2 separate regions of the Homo sapiens genome follow, and region 2 is linked to region 1. Evidence: fine-mapped expression QTL. A gene starts in region 1. The other region holds a variant in brackets. All regions are shown on one strand. Distances are from middle to middle.

The links. PIP is the estimated chance that this variant, and not a neighbour inherited with it, causes the effect.
Region 2: its variant is fine-mapped to the expression of CBLL1 in whole blood (TOPMed, PIP above 0.99).

The regions. Positions count from the first base shown.
Region 1 is chr7:107,738,739-107,748,566 of GRCh38, forward strand. It overlaps CBLL1 (Cbl proto-oncogene like 1), which reads left to right and starts at 5,404. Exons shown (of 6, transcript NM_024814.4): 1 at 5,404-5,438. The coding sequence starts at 5,426. CBLL1-AS1 (CBLL1 antisense RNA 1) reads right to left here and starts at 5,843. Exons shown (of 2, transcript NR_144537.1): 1 at 5,635-5,843; 2 at 4,015-4,665. RefSeq lists enhancers at 3,993-4,512, 4,513-5,031, 5,129-5,348, 5,699-5,878 and a silencer at 4,889-5,088.
Region 2 is chr7:107,919,259-107,929,086 of GRCh38, forward strand. DLD (dihydrolipoamide dehydrogenase) reads left to right here. Exons shown (of 14, transcript NM_000108.5): 14 at 1-1,940. The coding sequence ends at 1. LAMB1 (laminin subunit beta 1) reads right to left here. Exons shown (of 34, transcript NM_002291.3): 31 at 9,806-9,828; 32 at 6,925-7,101; 33 at 4,972-5,131; 34 at 4,541-4,829. The coding sequence ends at 4,693. Among named protein-coding and RNA genes, the nearest start is that of DLD, 33 kb to the left of the region's middle. The variant T/C (reference allele first, on the strand shown) is at 6,122.

The DNA of each region.
Region 1 (9,828 bases):
TTGTACTAAGAAAATATCTCCATTTTATTTCCTTTTTCTGTTACCATGTGACATAAGATTTATTGACTTCACATCAGCATTTAAATATTAACTTTATGTAATAGTATTTGGGTAGGAGATTGGTGCGTTTCCGTTTGTACAAAGGATGGTTTTATTATGTTAGATGTAATTATGACCTTATTATTGTCTTTATTTGAAGATGATGTGTGATCTCAGGAGATGTGTATGGGTTCAAGCTGACAAGTAGTAGACTTATGATGGTTAGTGCTGAGGGTCAACTTGATTGAAGGATGCAAAATATTGATCCTGGGTGTGTCTGTGAGGGTGTTGCCAAAGGAGATTAACATTTGAGTCAGTGGGCTGGGAAAGGCAGACCCACACTTAATCTGGGTGGGCACCATCTGATCAGCTGCCAGGGTGGTTAGAATATATAAAGCAGGCAGAAAAATGTGAAAAGACAAGACTAGCCTAGCCTCCCAGCCTAGATCTTTCTCCCGTGCTGGATGCTTCCTACCCTCAAACATCGGATTCCAAGTTCTTGTTTTGGGGCTTGGACTGGCTCTCCTTCCTCCTCAGCTTACAGATGGCCTATTGTGAGACCTTGTGATTGTGTGAGTTAATATTTAAAGTCCCTTTAATAATAATAGGATATTTAATAATTTAATAATAATAGGATCTATCTATCCTATTAGTTCTGTCCCTCTAGAGAACCCTGACCAATACAAAAAGCTCTTCAAAACATCATGGGAGCTATAAAGCAGTGGTTTTCAAACTTGAATTATAACCAATTAGTGCACTTTGACATTATTTTAGTGTATTATAACCAACATTTTTTTTAAAGGGACAGAATAAAAATAGCAGAGAGAACTGCATATAGAAAGGGTAAGTATAGTTTCATGACACTTACATATATGCTTAGGTGTTGTGAGTTTATGTACTGGACTATGATGTAGAATGTATTTCTGACAGAAACATTTATTTAACAGTAACAGGATCTACTTACAAACCAAGTGGACCAGGTGTTTTAGTCTGTTTGTACTGCTGTAACAAAATACCTGAGACTGCGTAATTTATAAACAATAAAAATTTATTTCTTACAGTTCTGGAGGCTGGGAAGTCCATGATCAAGGTGTCAGCAGATTTAGTGTCTTGTGAGGGTTCTCTGCTTCCGAGATGAGCACCCTGTTGCTTATATACTGGAAGGGATGAATGCTCTGTCCTCACATGGCTCACAGGCAGCTCTCTGAGGACTCTAACGGCAATACCATTCATGACAGCAAAGCCCTCACAGCTAAATCACTTCCCAAAAGGCCCCACCTCTTAATATCACCACCTTGGGGTTTAAGTTCCAACATATGAATTTTGGAGGAATACCTTCATTCAAACCATAGCACCAAGGAAGGCTGAAAGCCTTTTTCAACTGGCATGGAGTGGCAGCTGAGGTTAGGGTCAGGGGCCCTTGAACAAAAGCCTTCTTAAGTTTAGGAAACAATATACAGACTAATTGCTTACTACAGAGCAGTTTAATACCCTAAGCATTCTTTTAGGAGTGAACTGGAGGCAATTATATTAGCAAAGAAGCTGTAGGGAGGGACAGGTCTATCCAGCTCAAAGGATATCCACAACAAAATTTTCCTTCTCAGAAAAGAAGGAAGGCTGCAGGACCTCTCTAGATCAAAAGGTTCCTTTTCAAATGAGTACATATATTGCCAGGCCTCAACGAGAATGAATCTCCTTCGAGACAGGAACGGGACAATGCCTTCAATCAGCAACATTCTGTTTTTACAGTCTATTTCCCTCTTATTCTCTGAATCTGCCTCTTGCCCAGTTTTTCATGGTGTTTGAAAAGCTGGCTGCCATAGCTTGATAAGGCATATATCTAACCAGGATATTTTACTGCCTTTTCCATTTCTGCTTATCAAACGTATTAATATATACTGGACACTACCTGGATCCGTTTTTTTTTTTTTACTAACAATTCATTCATACTTCATGGCATTTTGGCTATCATAGGTATCGCTGGCTTCCTGGTCAATTGTTCTTGGTCTAGGTGTAATAGTATTACACTTTAATTCTGACTGATTGTTCATCAACTGATTCATCTCCCCACCCCAAGTTAAGATTTGCTCATTGTTTTTGAATATATTTTGCTGGATTATATTGTTTCTATGAATATATTATGCTGGGTTTTGTTAAATGCTCTATTTCTTTACTGTTACTCTGAAATCTTACTTTTTCAAGGTGCTCCATAATAACTTATTTTTTTAGAACTCCCAAACATGGATCAACAGTACAAATAAAGCTCTTCACTGTCCTCTATAGAAACCATACAATTCTCACATCTGTGCCCTTGCTTTTCTCTGTGTGATATGCCTTTTATTGCTCTCCTCCTCTCCAAATTTTATCCATTCACATAAGGCTCAGCTTAAATCCCTCCATAAAGCTAACCTAACTACTCTCAGTCCCACTACTTTATCTAAATGTAAGTAGCACTGAATTTCCTCTCAACACTTAGAACTAAATTATATAGATCTTCACATATTTCTTAAAATGATATCCTGTAGGATCCTTGAAGTAGGGGCCATTATTTATACAGCTTTTGCCTTATGCAGTCCTAGGCAGGCACTCAGTGGGATACAGTTGAAAGAGTGTTAGGAGATGAAGGTTTTTGTCCTTACTTGGTACTGAGGAGTCCGTAACAGGCTATTGGGGAAAACAAGCTCTCTGATACCCCTCTTACTTTTCTCATAGCATAAACAGTAACTATGTAAATGGGAGGCTATCAAAACATCTTGGAGACCACTACCTTATAATTCATAGGTAGTAGATGGTCTTGCCAGTAAGATAAAAAGGTGCACCTCAGTGCTTCAGACTGCCCATTACAGTAAGTTTTCACTTTTATAAACCTTAGGTCAGCACCTAAACTATATATAGCTTATATATAAGCAATATAAACCTTATGCTCTATAAATAAATATTAATGGCAACTCTTGATAAAGAAATTGTGACTGGTTACAGCACGCTGGTCGCTGAAAAGAGATACTAGAGGGCAGTAATAAAACATAGGTAAAGAAATTAATTTATCACACTGCTACTGCATTGGTAATTCAAGGCAACCACAATTAAGGGGGTAAATACAGACCACAGATGCTAAAGCAATGCCTGAAAGTAAGAGATGTCAAATCAAATCAAACAAATGTTTAACATTTTATCAGATCTAAAGTAAGTACATCTTCTCTCAGTAAATTTTCTTGATGCACCATAAAATGCCAACAAAACTTCTAACTTACAGGTTAAATTATATAAAATACAATTTGAAAGCTCTTTTTAATTCTAATTATTTAAATATTAGCATCAGCAGACATTAATAATACTATTCTGAACCTGGATTTCCATGAATCTGAAGGTTAACCGTTAGCTGATAGGCTAAGTATGATAGAACAAAAAAATCAAAGCCAGTGGTGGTGATGAGCATCTGTAGTCCCAACTACTCCGGAGGCTGAGGCATAAGGACCCCTTGAGCCCGGGAGTCCAAGGATGCAGTGAGCTATGATTCTGCCATTGTGTTCCAGTTTGGGCTGCCCCATCTCTAAAAAAAATTTTTTTAATATGAAAAAGAAGTACTTTCTAAGTGAAAACTTAAAAAAAAAAAAAAAACCCAAATTGGTGAAAAATGCCTGACTATATCAACACTGTATTTAGAAAAATAGGGAGGTATGGGAAAAAGGTTAGGCAAGCCCCAATGCCCAAAACAATAATCCCAGAAACTGAAAGCATCTTGAAAACCACCTAGCAATACAGAACTTTACATTTAAAAAAAGCAGGGGTAATTTTGATTCACAAATGTCCTTAGTTGTGAATGTACCTAAAAACTTGTTTATAAAGCTGCATATATAGAGCAGAAAAATCTTTTACAAGATCTCAGGAAAATAATCACCAAATAACATGGTGCACTTAAATCGCACTGATCATCACAGCATGATTCACAAATAATACCGTACAACTACAAAGATATAACACATCGCTACACATACTTTATTTGCAATTCAGTACCATGAAAACATTTCTCTAAGAGGTCAATGTAATAATCTTTTATTGATATAGGAACTCTGGCACTGAAAGCTTGAATAACCCAAGGTAATGATGTCGTCACCAAGGGAGGACAAGAATAGAACCCAAATCCCTTGACTCCCAAGCTTGTGTTTTCCATTAATTGTGCTCCTTTCTATTCATCCAAGAGCATCAAGTGTAAAAGGCTGGAGAAAGGAGTGGACACAAATGAGCCAAGTCCGCAAGGTGGAGACTGCACTGAAGGTCCTAGGAATCGCCCCTTGGCACTTTCCTTTTGTGTTGGCTGAGGAAGATGAAAGCAGCAACAACCACAAACTCCTGGGACCAAGAACTGGAACTAGGTACTGCTTGTTGTGGTAACTCTCTTCCTCATTTTAGGCCTTTCCTTTTTAACCTCTCCTTCCGGCCAAGCCTTCGCGCTCTCTTCCCCTCCCTCGGTTTCTATCCGCTCCCGTTAGCTCCACTCCGCACATTCCTGCAAGGTGTCCCCGTTAAGAGGAGGCAGCTGCGCCGCACTGGCTCTCCACCCTCCATCCGGCCCTGGCGCCCAGTCGTCAGGTGTTCGAGAGGTTCGTAGCGTCACAAGCGCTCTCCCTAGAAAGTGAGTGGCAGTCAAGCATTATAAACGTGTTTCAACTGTAAAGAGACTTAAGAGATGGGAACCGGGGCATATACCAAGTTAGCTCTGCGTGGGTCTAGGTAGCTCGTCACGACAAAGCAAAATTTAGACAAGCGTTGAGACTTTCCTTCTAGCTCCGAGTTTCACAGCTCCGCCATCCCCTGAGCAACCTCCCACTGGAGGGCGCCTTCCGGAGCGCGCGTGTTTACACTTTTGCTACACCAGGCGGAGGAAACAAGCGCTCGCTGACCCCGGGGGATTCCAAACCGTTACTCCGCCCGCCGGGGTGGGGCCAGCGCAACGGCCGAGCCTGCGCAGCCAGCCGGCTCCGGGGGCCCCGCGCACTACAAGTCCCAGAAGGCAGCTCTCCGCGGGGCGGGCAGTCGCCTTATCTGCTTCTGGCTCATTTTTACCACTGCTCTCCCCTTCCCCGGTCCCCCTGGTGTCCTTTCCACAGTTAAAGGCTACTTTCTCTTGAAGCACATGAGGAGAAGCCTTAGCAACCTCAATACCGAAGTTCTTCGCGCGCTCGCTCTTTCTGCCTCCGCCCGAACTATGCCTGAGTCCCTCACAGGAGTTGGATAGTAGAGGCGAGAGAAGGAAGTCTTTGCAGGCCAAAATTGGGACAACCTGCTTGGACTTCCGCCTCCCGGCCTCCGGAAGGCAGTGCGCACGCGCTCGCTGCGACTCCGGCGCGGTTGACTTCCGCTCCCACTGTGCTCTGCGAGCCGAATCATGGATCACACTGGTAAGGAGGCGGAGGCAGTGGGGGTCCCGGTTCCAAGCCCCCTTGGCCGGCCTGGGGCTGGTCGCACAGCAGGCAAAAGGGATTATGCTCGCCCCACAACACTAGGGTGTGGCAGTGAGAAGAAATCTCACAGATGCCTTCCTGTGCCCGGCAGGGGCCTGCGGTTTCCTGGCCTACCGTCTGGTGTGGTACCTACCTCCTCCGTGCCGGCAACAACCGCTCCTACTCTGGTTCTGCTGAGCTCCGAGCCCGGACCAGTGGGCGATGTAGGCCTTCGGGAAGGGAGAGCCCCGGCTCTGTTTTATTTAGCCCAGCTGCTCTGGCCTACGTTATGGAGACTGGCGGGTAGATTGCGGTCTCCGAGTCGCGGAATCCTCTTTACGCTGGGAGTGGACGGGCGAGAATGGGTTGGAGACTTCCTGCTGTCTCAGTCAGCTTTGGGCGGGTGCTGCAGTGGTCACCCCCTGTCGTCTCTCCGATCCTTTATGGACTAGAGGGGTGAAAGAAGGGAGTCTGATAGAGTTTTTGGAATCAAACTCGGAGCAGTTTTTCTACCTAAACCAAAAGCATGCCCCGCGCTTCGGCTGAGGTCCTTACTCATCATTTGAGGGTATTTACAAAGAGGAGTTTAAAATCAAGGCATTCTCATACTTTTCTCCAAGTAAGAGTGGCTCCACCCTTTGTTATGTATTTTCTGGCTTTTGCTTCTTTGTGGTTCTTGGATATTGAATGAGTGCTCTTGGAGTTATGTGCCCCATACATTTATAGCGACCGTATCACAAATAGAGAAAAAAAGGCTTTTTCTTGAGTATTGAGTTGTCCTCACTCATCAGATATCTACTTGGTTATATAATTAGGTGTGTATGTTTATTTATGTAGGTGTGTATGTTTATTTATGCAAGATACATGCAGATATCTATAGGTCGGGAGATGGAAGATGGAATGGTAAACGAGACGGACCAGGTCCGTGATAGAACTTCTGTTTTATGGAGGAACACAGACAATACGTTCTTTTTTTTTAAATTTATTATTTTTTTAATGTTTGCGGATTATTTTGAAGAAAATAAACGAGTGCTGTGGAGAGATTCATAGGACGAAATTTCAGAGAGGGTTGTTAGGAATGGTCTTTGTGGAAGCTAAGATCTGATGGATGAGAAGAACCCAGCCCTGGGAAAAAAGCAAGAGGAAGAGCATTTCCAGCAAGTGCGAAGGCACTGAGGTAGGAAGATACAGTGAAGTCAGCTGCAGCCTCCTAATAGCCAGAGGGTAGGAGTCCTGAAGTGAGATTGGAAAGGAGGGCAGCAGGCACATCATTCAGGTCATTGAAAGCCGTGGTAAACGTTTGAATTTTAATTTAAGTGAATATGAAGCCATTGAACAGAAGTGGAGGAGGAACACAGTCTCTTAAAAAATACAATAGGCTGTTCTATGAAGAATGGTGTAAGAGAGGGAGGTAAGAATGATGGAAAATAGCTGATTGCAGTAGACGGGAAGGGAAGGTTGGTTTGGTGAAAATGAAGGAGAATGGGCAGCTTCAGTAAATACTCTGGTGGTGTTTGAAGGAATGTGAGAGAAAGGAGAAATGCCTAGGCTTTTGGTTTGAGCAACTAGGTAGGGTCCATTATTGAGCTGAGGAAAACTTGGGGCAGAAAACAATCTTTTTTTGTAGAGGTGAGACGGGAATTTGGGAACAAGTGTTTGGTCTTGGACTGCTAGTGTGAGATAACTACTGAGACACAGGAGAGATGCCAAGTGGAGATGAGAGGAAAGATCTGCACTGAAAATACGTATTTGGAAGTTAGTACCTTTATTTATAGCTGGTATTTTAAAGCATGAGGACAGATGAGACCACTTAAGAAGGGTGTGTTCAGAGGAGAAGCCGGCCTAGAACGAGGCTGTAAAGAATTCCAGTGTTTGGGAATTTATAGAGTTGAAACTGGGATTTTGATGTTAGAATAGCAAACATTCAACTTTAGGAAAGTAATTCTTATTTGAGCCCACTACTGGAATTATGAGTCAAGTTCCTGCCATAGTTTAGAGGCTATTATGTTAGGAAATCATAATAGGGGTGAGTGTAAAGAGTGTTTATTATCTTAATTCTTGAAGTTTAGAGATTGCCTAAGGAAGTAAAACTCATCTTAACATGAAAATACTCACGAATGAGCTGACCACTTAAAAAATTAGTTCCCTCTCAGATGTCCCTTCTGCTTAACACTAGCTTCTTACCTATTTTATTTTTTTTAAATGAATCAATCTCTTTGATGTTTAGTATCAGAAGACAGTATCAAATACTGTGCACTGATTGTGAAATAAAATTATAAACCTTGTAGAAGATTCTGGTTTTCATGAAATTCGTAAACATGAATTTGATAATTGTTTAAATCACAAAGGCTTTGACAAATGAGGAAATGCCACTTAGCTAGATAATTGAAGAATCATGACAGGATAGGCATCTCAAAAGAATAATTGTAATATTAAAGGATTAAGAGGTCCTTGGGGAAACAGATGAAACCCTTGAACATTATGCAAAAATGACCCATTTTATGATCATACCGAAACATTCAAATGTGAAAATGAAGGTGTTCTAATAGAATCTTGCCAGAAAAATTACTCCAAGGGGCTCCCCATTAACACTGGATTTATTCTTTGGTCATTCTAAGAATTAGCACTTCTGTAACTGTATCCCAGATTTTGTAAAAGATCCCAGATTTTGTAAAATATTTATTGGTTCTTTTTATTCAAGATAAAAAATCCCCAATCTTTTTTAAACTATATGATATGGAAGTGTTGTGCCTTTTTAAAGTGAATTTATCTGAAGTGGCCAGTAGTCCTTAGTCACTTTCTATGTAATATCTAAGAAATTTTTGTTGTTAAGGACTTTATAATTTGTTACTGTATTCAAAAGGAAATAGTGCTTTATGCTCTGATTCTTAATTTAAAAACAACAAAAAGCAAAAAAGTCCCAAAGAAACCCAGAATGTTATCATTATTAAATGCTGTACCTCATGAACTTGAATCTGTGAAGCAGAGTGGGAAGGGCCAGCCAGCTCTTGAAAGTGGTAGACTATGCAAGCAACAGTAGAGACCTCAAGTGTTCAGGATGGTGTGAAAAGGACTTGTAATGAAGTGTTGGTATTTTCATTATTCACAAAGGTAAAACGATTAAACCATTTTGATATTTGAATATTTAATATTTGAGGGACAGCATTGAACTGATTATATGTCTACAACGACTTGCTTTTTAGTTCATTGGAATGTCAGGAATACTTTTTGAGCAAGGAAAAAAGTCATTCATATTTCTTTTGGCCAATGCATTGCTTGTAAGTACTTTTACATACATAAGCAACTACAATGAAAACAGATCAAATACATTAATCAGCTTGTGAGTCTATTTAATGAAGTGTTGAAAGCTGATCAAGTTGGGTTAACCCTAACTCAAGATTCTAGCTAACCATGTAATTCCACCCCTCTTTGTTTTAGGATTAGCTGTTATAAGAGTAGTAAGTAGATTAAAATAATCGTTATGGACCCATTTTTAATTTTGTTTGGTATTTTGTTCAGAAAAAGTGCAAATGAATGTGAACTTATTGTGTGTCTGTAATCCTAGTAGCCTTGGAGGCCATTGGTACTAGCTTACTACTTCCAAATTTGGCTTTGCTGAATTTAATGTGGATGGTTTGGCTATCAGTCTTGACTGTAATATTTCCTGCAGGGGCAGTTATACAACCTTGTTCAATAACTTGTCATGTTTAAAACACTACAAATTAAAAAATACGTTATTTGTATTTCCTATTTTAAGCATTTTCCTTCTTTAGTAGGTCAAGTTAAATATTTTCTGTATTATATATTTTCATCTACTTGAAAAAAGGTAACTCTTAAGCTTTAGATGGAGTCAGTTCTATGAAATAATACTCCTGTTACTCATGGGACAAGAATTAATTTATTCTATAGACAATAACAAGCAAAGACTCCAGGGACTAGAAAGTGACACTTGTTTAGACCTAGTTGTAGTATAGGAACTTTGCATCCTCTTAAATTATAATTTTCCATTACAGTGCTGACTAAGAACTCAGTCACATGTTATAGCACAAATACATTATTGCATGTTTTTACTACTAAATGGTATAATGATTTTTACTATATTTCTGAATGATTTTTAGAATAATTATTTTGCGCTTAAGGAATAATCACATTTCTTAACTTCATTTTCAAACGCATTGTTTAATTTTGCCTTCATCAGTATTAGTAAGTTCAGTTTACTAAATTTATTTTCTGCTTTGCATGCTTGATGATCAGACATGGAGACAGGGATGGTTTTCGTTCTTTTTCTCCTTCTTACTCTTTTTCTTTTAAAAAATTCTCTTGTAGTTCAAGACAATGGTTCTTGGGT
Region 2 (9,828 bases), 180 kb after region 1:
AATTAGAAGATTATATATATTTTTTTCTGAAATTTCCTGGGAGCTTTTGTAGAAGTCACATTCCTGAACAGGATATTCTCACAGCTCCAAGAATTTCTAGGACTGAATTATGAAACTTTTGGAAGGTATTTAATAGGTTTGGACAAAATGGAATACTCTTATATCTATATTTTACATAAATTTAGTATTTTGTTTCAGTGCACTAATGTGTAAGACAAAAAGCTACTTATTGTAGCATCCTGGAATATCTCCGTCAACTCATATTTTCATGCTGTTCATGAAAGATTCAATGCCCCTGAATTTAAATAGCTTTTTTCTCTGATACAGAAAAGTTGAATTTTACATGGCTGGAGCTAGAATTTGATATGTGAACAGTTGTGTTTGAAGCACAGTGATCAAGTTATTTTTAATTTGGTTTTCACATTGGAAACAAGTCAGTCATTCAGATATGATTCAAATGTCTATAAACCGAACTGATGTAAGTAAACGGTCTCTCACTTGTTTTATTTAACCTCTAAATTCTTTCATTTTAGGGGTAGCATTTGTGTTGAAGAGGTTTTAAAGCTTCCATTGTTGTCTGCAACTCTGAAGGGTAATTATATAGTTACCCAAATTAAGAGAGTCTATTTACGGAACTCAAATACGTGGGCATTCAAATGTATTACAGTGGGGAATGAAGATACTGAAATAAACGTCTTAAATATTCATTTACTGGTTATCATGAGTACGTGTTGAGATGGTCATAGTTTTTTTTATGACTACTTCTAGTGTATATTCTAATTTCTTTTCTAGGCCTGAATGTATCTTTATTTTCATGTTATAGGACAATATTAAGGCATTTTAAAGGTCATCATCCTTTCATCTATTTTAGATACACCTACTAAATGTTTAATATATACTTTTGGAGAAGTACAACATAAGGGAGTCTTTAATCTGTGTTTTCCTTGGCTGGGTTAATGACTGTTTATTTAAAGAGTGTTGTAAAATTGGATGTGTGGTGTTTAAAATGGCCATGTCCTGAGGAAACTTAAGTAACAAAGTACTAAATGCTAAGTAGGCTTTTGCATATTGTAACTAAATTTAAGAATAATTCAGATTAAGTAGTTCTGAAATTTGGTATAGATAGCATAGATTGTCTCATGCTCATGAGTGACATAATGACCCTGGATTCTGTTACATACTTCTAAAGAAAATTGATTGTTGTCTTAGGAGGCAGTTAACTTGGCTGAACACCAACTCCACACTCTGTCTTGTTTGTAGGTGGCAGCAGCTGAAATCTCTTCTCAGTTGTTTTAGCTTTAGCTATGCTGCTGGAAGTCTTTCCCATGCAAGTGTGTAGTTCAGGGGTCAACCAGAGTTTGGGCAGAAGGAAGTCTGCCCCTTCTGTGCCTCCTGTTTTTTGGGGGTTTCCCCTTTATGTTCCAGCTGTTGTGGTTGCCCCATATTCTGCCTTCTGATCCTTAACCAATAAAACTTGGCTTTTGTTTCCCCCTCAAGTGAGAACCCGTTAAAAATGAGACATTGAGCCAGTGCTGTTCACTTTTTAAGTGCCAACTTCCCTCTACTTTCCACTTGTTTATAGTTGTTTCCAGTGCCTTTAGTTTTTTCTAAAATATATTTGTTCAGAGTTTGCAGTTGCTATCAGCAGGAGGGTTGGTCTGATATCTGTGTGCTACTTTGCCATTATTGGAAGTGAACTCTGCATCTTTTTAAAAATTTGAAATCCCGGTATCATGTGAAGTGCTGTTTATGTAAATCTCAACATATCCCTTACTCAGGGAAAAAAAAGTTTTTAGTTAGGGAATAGTGAAATATAATTTAATATGGAATTCTAGCTGTAGAGTTAAATCCATCTTTAAGTGTTTACATTCAGTATGAGAATGCAAATTTATCTGTATGGGGAATAAAGTCCTAGGAATAAAACAAGTTTTAAGTGTTCACTTACTGTTATCTACTAAGCTGTCAATATTTTTGTGGCTTGTGAAGAGTGAAATTAATTGTCCACTTCATTGAACTGATTAAAATTAGTAATTTCAACTGGCTGGGAGCGGTGGCTCACTCCTGTAATCCCAGCACTTTGGGAGGCCGGGGCGGGCAGATCACCTGCGGTCAGGAGTTTGAGACCAACCTGACCAATGTGGTAAAACCCCATCTCTACTAAAAATATAAAAATTAGCCAGGTGTGGTGGCAGGCCCCTGTAATCCCAACTACTCAGGAGGCTGAGGCAGAATCACTTGAACCCAGGAGGCGGTGAGCTGAGATCATGCCACTGCATTCTAGCCTGGCGACAGAGCGAAACTCCGTCTCAAAAAAAAAAAAAAAGTAATTTCAAAGTGAGATCTTTAGTTGTTTAGCTGAAAAGGAATGGAGAGTGTTTCTACTGTTCTAAGTAAAATACTACATAATTGCTCTAGTAGATGATGGGGTATGACCATTTTTGCTAGTTATTGGGATTTTTTTTTTTAATTAAGTTCTGGGGTACATGTGCAGAACATGCAGGTTTGTTACATAGGTATACATGTGCCATGGTGGTTTGCTGCACCCATCAACCCATCATCTACATTAGGTATTTCTCTTAATGCTATCCCTCCCCCACCCCCATCCCCTTGTCCATGTGTTTTCATTGTTCACCTCCCACTTACAAGTGAGAACATGTGGTGTTTGGTTTTCTATTTTTGTGTTAGTTTGCTGAGAACGATGGTTTCCAGCTTCATCCATGTCCCTGCAAAGGATGTGAACTCATCCTTTATTATGGCTGCATAGTATTCCATGGTGTATATGTGCCACATTTTCTTTATCCATTCTGTCATAGATGGGCATTTGGGTTGGTTCCAAGTCTTTGCTATTGTGAACAGTGCCTCAATAAACATACATGTGCATGTGTCTTTATAGTAGAATGATTTATAATCCTTCGGGTATATACCCAGTAATAGCATTGCTGGGTCAAATGGTATTTCTAGTTCTAGATCCTTGAGGAATTGCCACACTGTCTTCCACAATGGTTGAACTAATTTACACTCCCACTAACAGTGTAAAAGTGTTCCTATTTCTCCACAGCCTCTCCAGCATCTGTTGTTTGCTGACTTTTTAATGATTGTCATTCTAACTGGCATGAGATGGTATCTCATTGTGGTTTTGATTTGCATTTCTCTATTGAACAGTGATGATGAGCTTTTTTTCATGTTTGTTGGCTGCATGCATGTCTTCTTTTGAGAAGTGTCTGTTCATATCCTTCACCAACTTTTTGATGGGTTTGAAGTTCTTTGCAAAAATTTTCTCCCATTCTCTAGGTTGCCTGTTCACTCTGATGATAGTTTCTTTTGCTGTGCAGAAGCTCTTTAATTAGATCCCGTTTGTCAATTTTGGCTTTTGTTGCCATTGCTTTTGGTGTTTCAGTCATGAAGTCTTTGCCCATGCCTATGTCCTGAATGGTAATTGCCTAGGGTTTTTATGGTTTTAGGTCTTACGTTTAAGTCTTCAATCCATCTTGAGTTAATGTTTGTATAAGGTGTAAGGAAGGGATCCAGTTTCAGCTTTCTGCATATGGCTAGCCAGTTTTCCCAACACCATTTATTAAATAGGGAATCCTTTCCCTACTGCTTGTGTCAGGTTTGTCAAAGATCAGATTGTTGTAGATGTGTGGTGTTATTTCTGAGACCTCTGTTCTGTTCCATTGGTCTATATATCTGTTTTGGTAACAGTACCATAAAAGTGACAAATTATTGCTTTGGGCCAGAGGAAAGTTATTAACTTACAGCTGTTTACATAACTGTTGTCCAGGCCCAGCTTCAGATGCAGCTGTGTTGGATGTGTGGGTGGTTGTTAAGCAGTCCACAGAATAGTCTTGCTCTAAGAATGTGTGAAAAAAACACATAGGGGCTAGCCTTTTATACAGCTAGTTAGGCAATAAAGTTGACATGGGCCTGGCAATTACTTTCGTTAGATTAGTTGCAAAATCACATAAAATACAATACAAAAGCTGAGAAATTAGAGCATCATTCTGTGCTCTGTAGTATAAAATACAATACAAAAGCTGAGAAATTAGAGCATCATTCCGTGCTCTGTAGTAGCATTGCTCAATTGGCAGGAGCAGTATCCATAAACTCTGGCCTGATTTAACTGAAACCTTCCCCTCAGTAACCCTAGTCCTTTTCTAGGTGGTAATGACTACAAACCCTAGTACATCCTGCTGATTTTCTAAAATGTTGCTTTTTCTCATTCCTAGAGCAAGGAATACTTACTTACAGGAGTTTTGATGGCTGGAGCAACTCAGCAACCATTGAAATAGTGATGGTAGCATAGACTATATTTGTCCTCCTTAACCTCAACCTGGGAATCCCACTGGGAGGTGATTGGGAGGAGGGGAGTCAAGGGTGTGGAGTTTTGGAGGATGTTTACCTGTCAAATAAATATAATAGCTTGTTTATAGACAACATAAATTAGGGTCTTCATGGACGCAGTAAACTTGTTTATAAATCCACGTTTACAGTGAAAAAAGGGATTCATCAACAATCAGTGAAAGTAACAAGTACACCAAAATATATACAAAAGCACTGTACTTTATTTAACTCCATACAAAATGTGATTAAAAACATTAAATAGGTGATGTTTTATTTTGAAGAGCATTAAGTCAGTTTTTAAAATGTAGTTGTTTTACCTTGTTCACCTCAGCCATTTTTTATTCTCCTCTGTTACAAGCATGTGCTATACACAGCAACTTTCTGGCTTATATCCTTTAGGAGTGAACGGACTTCTCCTTCCAGTCTTGCTAATTCTTGAGCTTTATCTTCTAAGTATCTTTGATTGTCTTCATATTTTCTTTCTAAATCTGTGGGGAGATATATATATATAAAGTCTGAGCAATTTATACTATGATGATCTCAAGACAAAGTGAATATATTTTTCACTTTTAAATAAACTATGGATGCCTTAAAGTAATTTAAAAAATAAGCCTGTGTGAAAAGACCCACCTTTGAGCAGTTGCAGCTTGCTATTTGCTTGAGCTAAAAGAGTTTTTGCTTCATTTTGTAGCATTTCGGCTTTCCTTCTGGCATCAGCTGACTCTTCAGTTTTTTTGGCAATTAAATTTTCTACTTTTTTATACTTTTCATCAAGTTCACCATCTAAAGTCTATAGTTCCACATTTAGACAGAAAGAAGTGGTAATGTTAGTGTCAGTAATTACATTTAAGAGCAATAGTGTAATCATGGCATGCATTCTGGATTAAGGGCCACCAAGGATATTCACTGGTAAGTAATTTAAAATTTTATCTTCAAACAGTGGAATTGAATGCAAAATTGACATGATTTTAAAGAACATTTCAAAAAATTCTGGAGTTGCAGCAAATCCTTAGGGCTAAGTCCTCATTCTCCTGATTATTACTTTTCTATAGAAAAGTTGTAGCATAATTGTATTGCAAATTACATAGAGAAGCGCAGATTTTTCAAAAGTAGATTAGACATTAGAGAAGCCCATATTGAAGAAGTGGAGGCTCTTTGGATCTTGACTAAATTAGGATTTGTGAAGACTTGCTTATAAGGAAATCAGAGGAAAAAGATTAAACAAAAGATACAGGAAGGAAAGGTGAGATTGTAGCATATGCAAGAAGTGAGTGAGGAGAAGAGAAATGGGGTGTGGGGTTGGAATGCAAATGATTCTTTTTAGAAACTGTTCAAATAGCCATTTATGGAAATTTCATTTCAAGAGATTTTGTTCCTTTCTCTTGTGATAAAATGTCATTATGCAAAATGCCCTGAAGCAGAGTACTTGAGAAATTTGTGTCCTCAGTACTGCAGGAAACCACACAAACCAAAACAGAAAAGACAGCTGTCTGATATTGTGGCAGTGAACTTTTCTCATTGTTTTGTTCTCTTTCCCAACCTAGAGAGAGGTAGGGAAAGTTACTCTTACGTAATGCCCGAAAAGCTACAGTAACTTCCAGAAAATTTTTGAATAGTAGGGAGTTAAATACTGAAATTAGGTCAGTAAATGCAGGTGCCCCCAGGCCTACGGACCAGTTAGGAACTGGGTGGGCAGGCAAGTATTATTGCCTGAGCTCCACCTTCTGTCAGATCAGTGGTGACATTAGATTCTCATAGGAGCACGAATCCTATTGGGAAC[T/C]GTGCATGCAAGGGATCTAGGTTGTGCACTCCTTATGGAATCTAATGCCTGATCTGAGCTGGAACAGTTTCATCCTGAAACCATCCCCACCCCCGAGTCTGGAAAAATTGTCTTCCAGGAAACTGGTCCTTGGTGCCAAAAAAGTTGGGGACCAGTGATTCAATGGTTTTAAGCCCCACCCCGGCGCCACCAAGTTTTTAATGTTCTCTTTAGAAATAAGCATTATTGAGAAACTGAACATGTGTTTCAGTTATTACATGGCTTCTGATTAAACATTTGGGTTGTGTGAGTTTTTCTCTGCAAAATATAGTGCCTTCGAATGAGAGGTGAGGGGTAGTTAATTCAAAATGAGTCTCAAAGAGATAAGATTTGGTTTCCTACTACCTGTTCTCTGTTCCAACCTGCTTGTAAAATATTCTCAAATGGCCTGATAATTACTATATGCCATGAAGAATTTAACTGACTACCGCACAGAAATAAAAGTTCAATATGACTGGTTTTTGTCAATATAGTTGGTTTAAAAAAAAAAAAAAAGCCTGTTTTGAGACTTCTACCCCTAAGTTAATTCCGTTCTTCTAAACTCTTGTCCAAATTTGGATTTGAGGACATAGGTCATACTTATTAGATATTTCCATATTCTTTCCCATCCACACTTCTAAAGACGGCTGTTGCAAAACAGGTCATTTGATATTTCTGATGAATTCTGTTTCTGTTAGGTCCATGTCCCTTACTCTAAGGCAGGCAAGGAGGAGACTGGTGGCTCCTTTAACAACATAGCTCTGAAATTACAAAGATTTACGTACCTTCTTAACATCTTCTGCACTTTGCTTCACAGTATATACTACTTTTTCAATATATTCTGCCTCCCCGGAGTTTTGGGCAGCTTTCCGCTTAAGTTCTTCCACATTCCTCTCTAACTCGCTGATGCGCTGGGACGCGTTGAACAAGGTTTCCTCAGAAGCTGCTGTTTCAGACTCAATCTAAAAGCATGTCAATTTTCCAGCAAGACATTAGTTTAAGAAATGGAATTACTATGAGTACAAGTTTGGAGGAAGATTTAAAAGTCTGCTGTGCCATTTTGCTCTAGACCAAAAGAAGTAATTACTAAAAAGAATATTTCAGGAAAAGTTACATGAAGTATCTAACTTTAGTCTTTGCTACATTTCATATATTCACTTCATTCTTTCAGTACTTCTGATGATCTAAGCTGAGATTGATGTAAAATTTTTTCTGACAGTAAAAAAAAACAAAAAACCCCACCTCCCCAAGGAGCATGATGTGTTGAGAAAGCATTTTAAGGACACCTGCAAACTTTGGCTAAAGAACATTCACAAATAAGCAGCTGTGCGAAGAGGGATTTCCACATAAATTTCCAACTTAATGTGAGTGGGAAAATAAATGTTAAACTCTAGTAGTGGAGATTTCAGCTAATTACTGAAGACATGGAGACTAGGGATGTTCTTTGAATTTCTATAGAATTGTGAGATGATGTATGGTCTGGGAACGTTACAGCTGTAAACTCTAAATACACAAAGTTATTTAGGGAAAAAAAAATATCTGGGCAACTGGTGAGGATCCACATCTGATCTCCTTTCAAAGTAGAATCAATAAACATTGACTTTTAAAAGCTAGCCAAAGTAAGCAGTTGAGCCCATGACAAAAGAATCAATTTCACTGAGCACTCAATTTTTCTTTAAAATGATCTTCAAGGATGGGTCTAATTACATAGAATTAACTGAATAACAGTACTGCTATAATGAAGTTAATAAGGGTCAGTATAAGACATAGGCTAAAATTTGTAAATATTTCAAACCTAAGGACCCTTTAATTAGAATAAAATTCTTAGAAATTATAATTCTTAGAAGATAAAGTTTGAGTGAATTGTTTCTGATAAGCTTTCATGAACACAGTTTAGTTAGAGGTTCTCTTTGTTTCTTATTGTTACTAACCTAAAACACTTCCTGCCCCCTAGGGCCCCTGAAAAACAGAACCCCAATTATTAACTTGCATCATCAAGCCACATCTCACCTATAATTCAGTATTTTCTAATTTGCTTTTCAGAACAATTTTTTTCAAGAAACAGGGTCTTGCTATATTTCCCAGGCTGGAGTGCAGTGACTGTTTGTTTACAGGCATGATCATAGTGCACTATAGTCTCAAACTCTTGGCCTTAAGTGATCCTCTCACCTCCACCTCCCAAGTGGCTGGGACTACAGGCACACACTGCTGCACCTGGCTTTCAAAACAATAATTTCTACAGTCACTGACATAATATTCACTAAAATATTAACAGCAAACTGAGAAAATGGAAAAACCTAGAGATCGAAACATCAAAATATTTATAGTCTGGTGGGAAAACATAATTTTTCTAAACTTGAACAAATAGCCTGAAGAAAAAGTCTTATTGATACTCGAAATTTAAGGAGGAAAATGGACAGAATTATTGGCCTTCATTTAACTGACAGCAATAGAATAGGGGAACACAGGTTTTTACCAACTAATGGTAAGAAAAGCATGTTGAAAATTCATCTTCCCAGGTTTTAAACACATGGAGGATTGGCCTGAGAAGGCTGACAATGCTGGGTATGGGAGCATTTAATTTCAAAGTATATTCTGAGAACCTGTATAGGGATTAGATAACTCATCAATTTTCTTCATTTTTTAAAAACTCGTAAAATTGGAACGAAAACATTAACTTTCTGAGAAACAAAAGAATTTAATGGAATTATGTTTGCATTACTTCTTTTAAGAGATAAAGAGGATTTTTAGAGCAAGGTGCTAGATCCCTATGAAAAATTCGTAATGAGTACTTTTAATATCTGGTAGTCACAGTATATTTCTTATAAAAAACATTAAGTTTTCCATGCATTCTAAACAGAACAGATTGTTTAGCTATAAGTGCTCTATTAGGTTTCTCTAGAATTGGGTATTGAAAGCAGACTGACTGTTCTCCCATAGTTTCCAAAACTACTATATAGTAAAATGTTTGATGACCAAAATCTTGAGACATTGGCCTTCTTAACCAGATAAGCTGCTTTATAACATCAGGACAGTTTTCTAAAATTATTATACTTCATACTACTGAACAGAGTATATGCTGTTTCCTCAATGAATAGGAGTGCTTTTTTTTTTTTTGAGATGGAGTCTCTGTTGCCCAGACTGGAGTACAGTGGTGTGATCTCAGCTCATTGCAACCTCGACCTCCCCGGTTCAAGCAATTCTCCTGCCTTAGCCTCCCAGGTAGCTGGGACTACAGGCACACACCACTATGCCCAGCTAACTTTTGTATCTTTAGTAGAGAAGGGGTTTTGCCATGTTGGCCACGCTGGTCTTGAACTACTGACCTCAAATGACCCACCCACCTCGGCCTCCCAAAATGCTGGAATTACAGGCGTGAGCCACCATGCCCGCCCAAGAATAGAAGTTTTTATCTTTCTCAGACTTTGTGGGGGAGAAAATGAGATGGGACGTAATGGTCCAGTGTCTGAATCAGAGTCCTTTTATTCCTTGAAAACCTATCTCCACTTATTTTTAGCATCCATGCTAACGGAGTAGTTTAGATTTATTAAAGGAATCCTTTAATGTTGAGTTGTAAGAATTTCTGTTCATAGATAACAAATGTACTTTTCTGGTAAGTGTATATGTAGGTGTGTTCCCATTCATGTAATGATTGTGTATGCCTACCGAAGTTAACAGGTTCTGGGTTC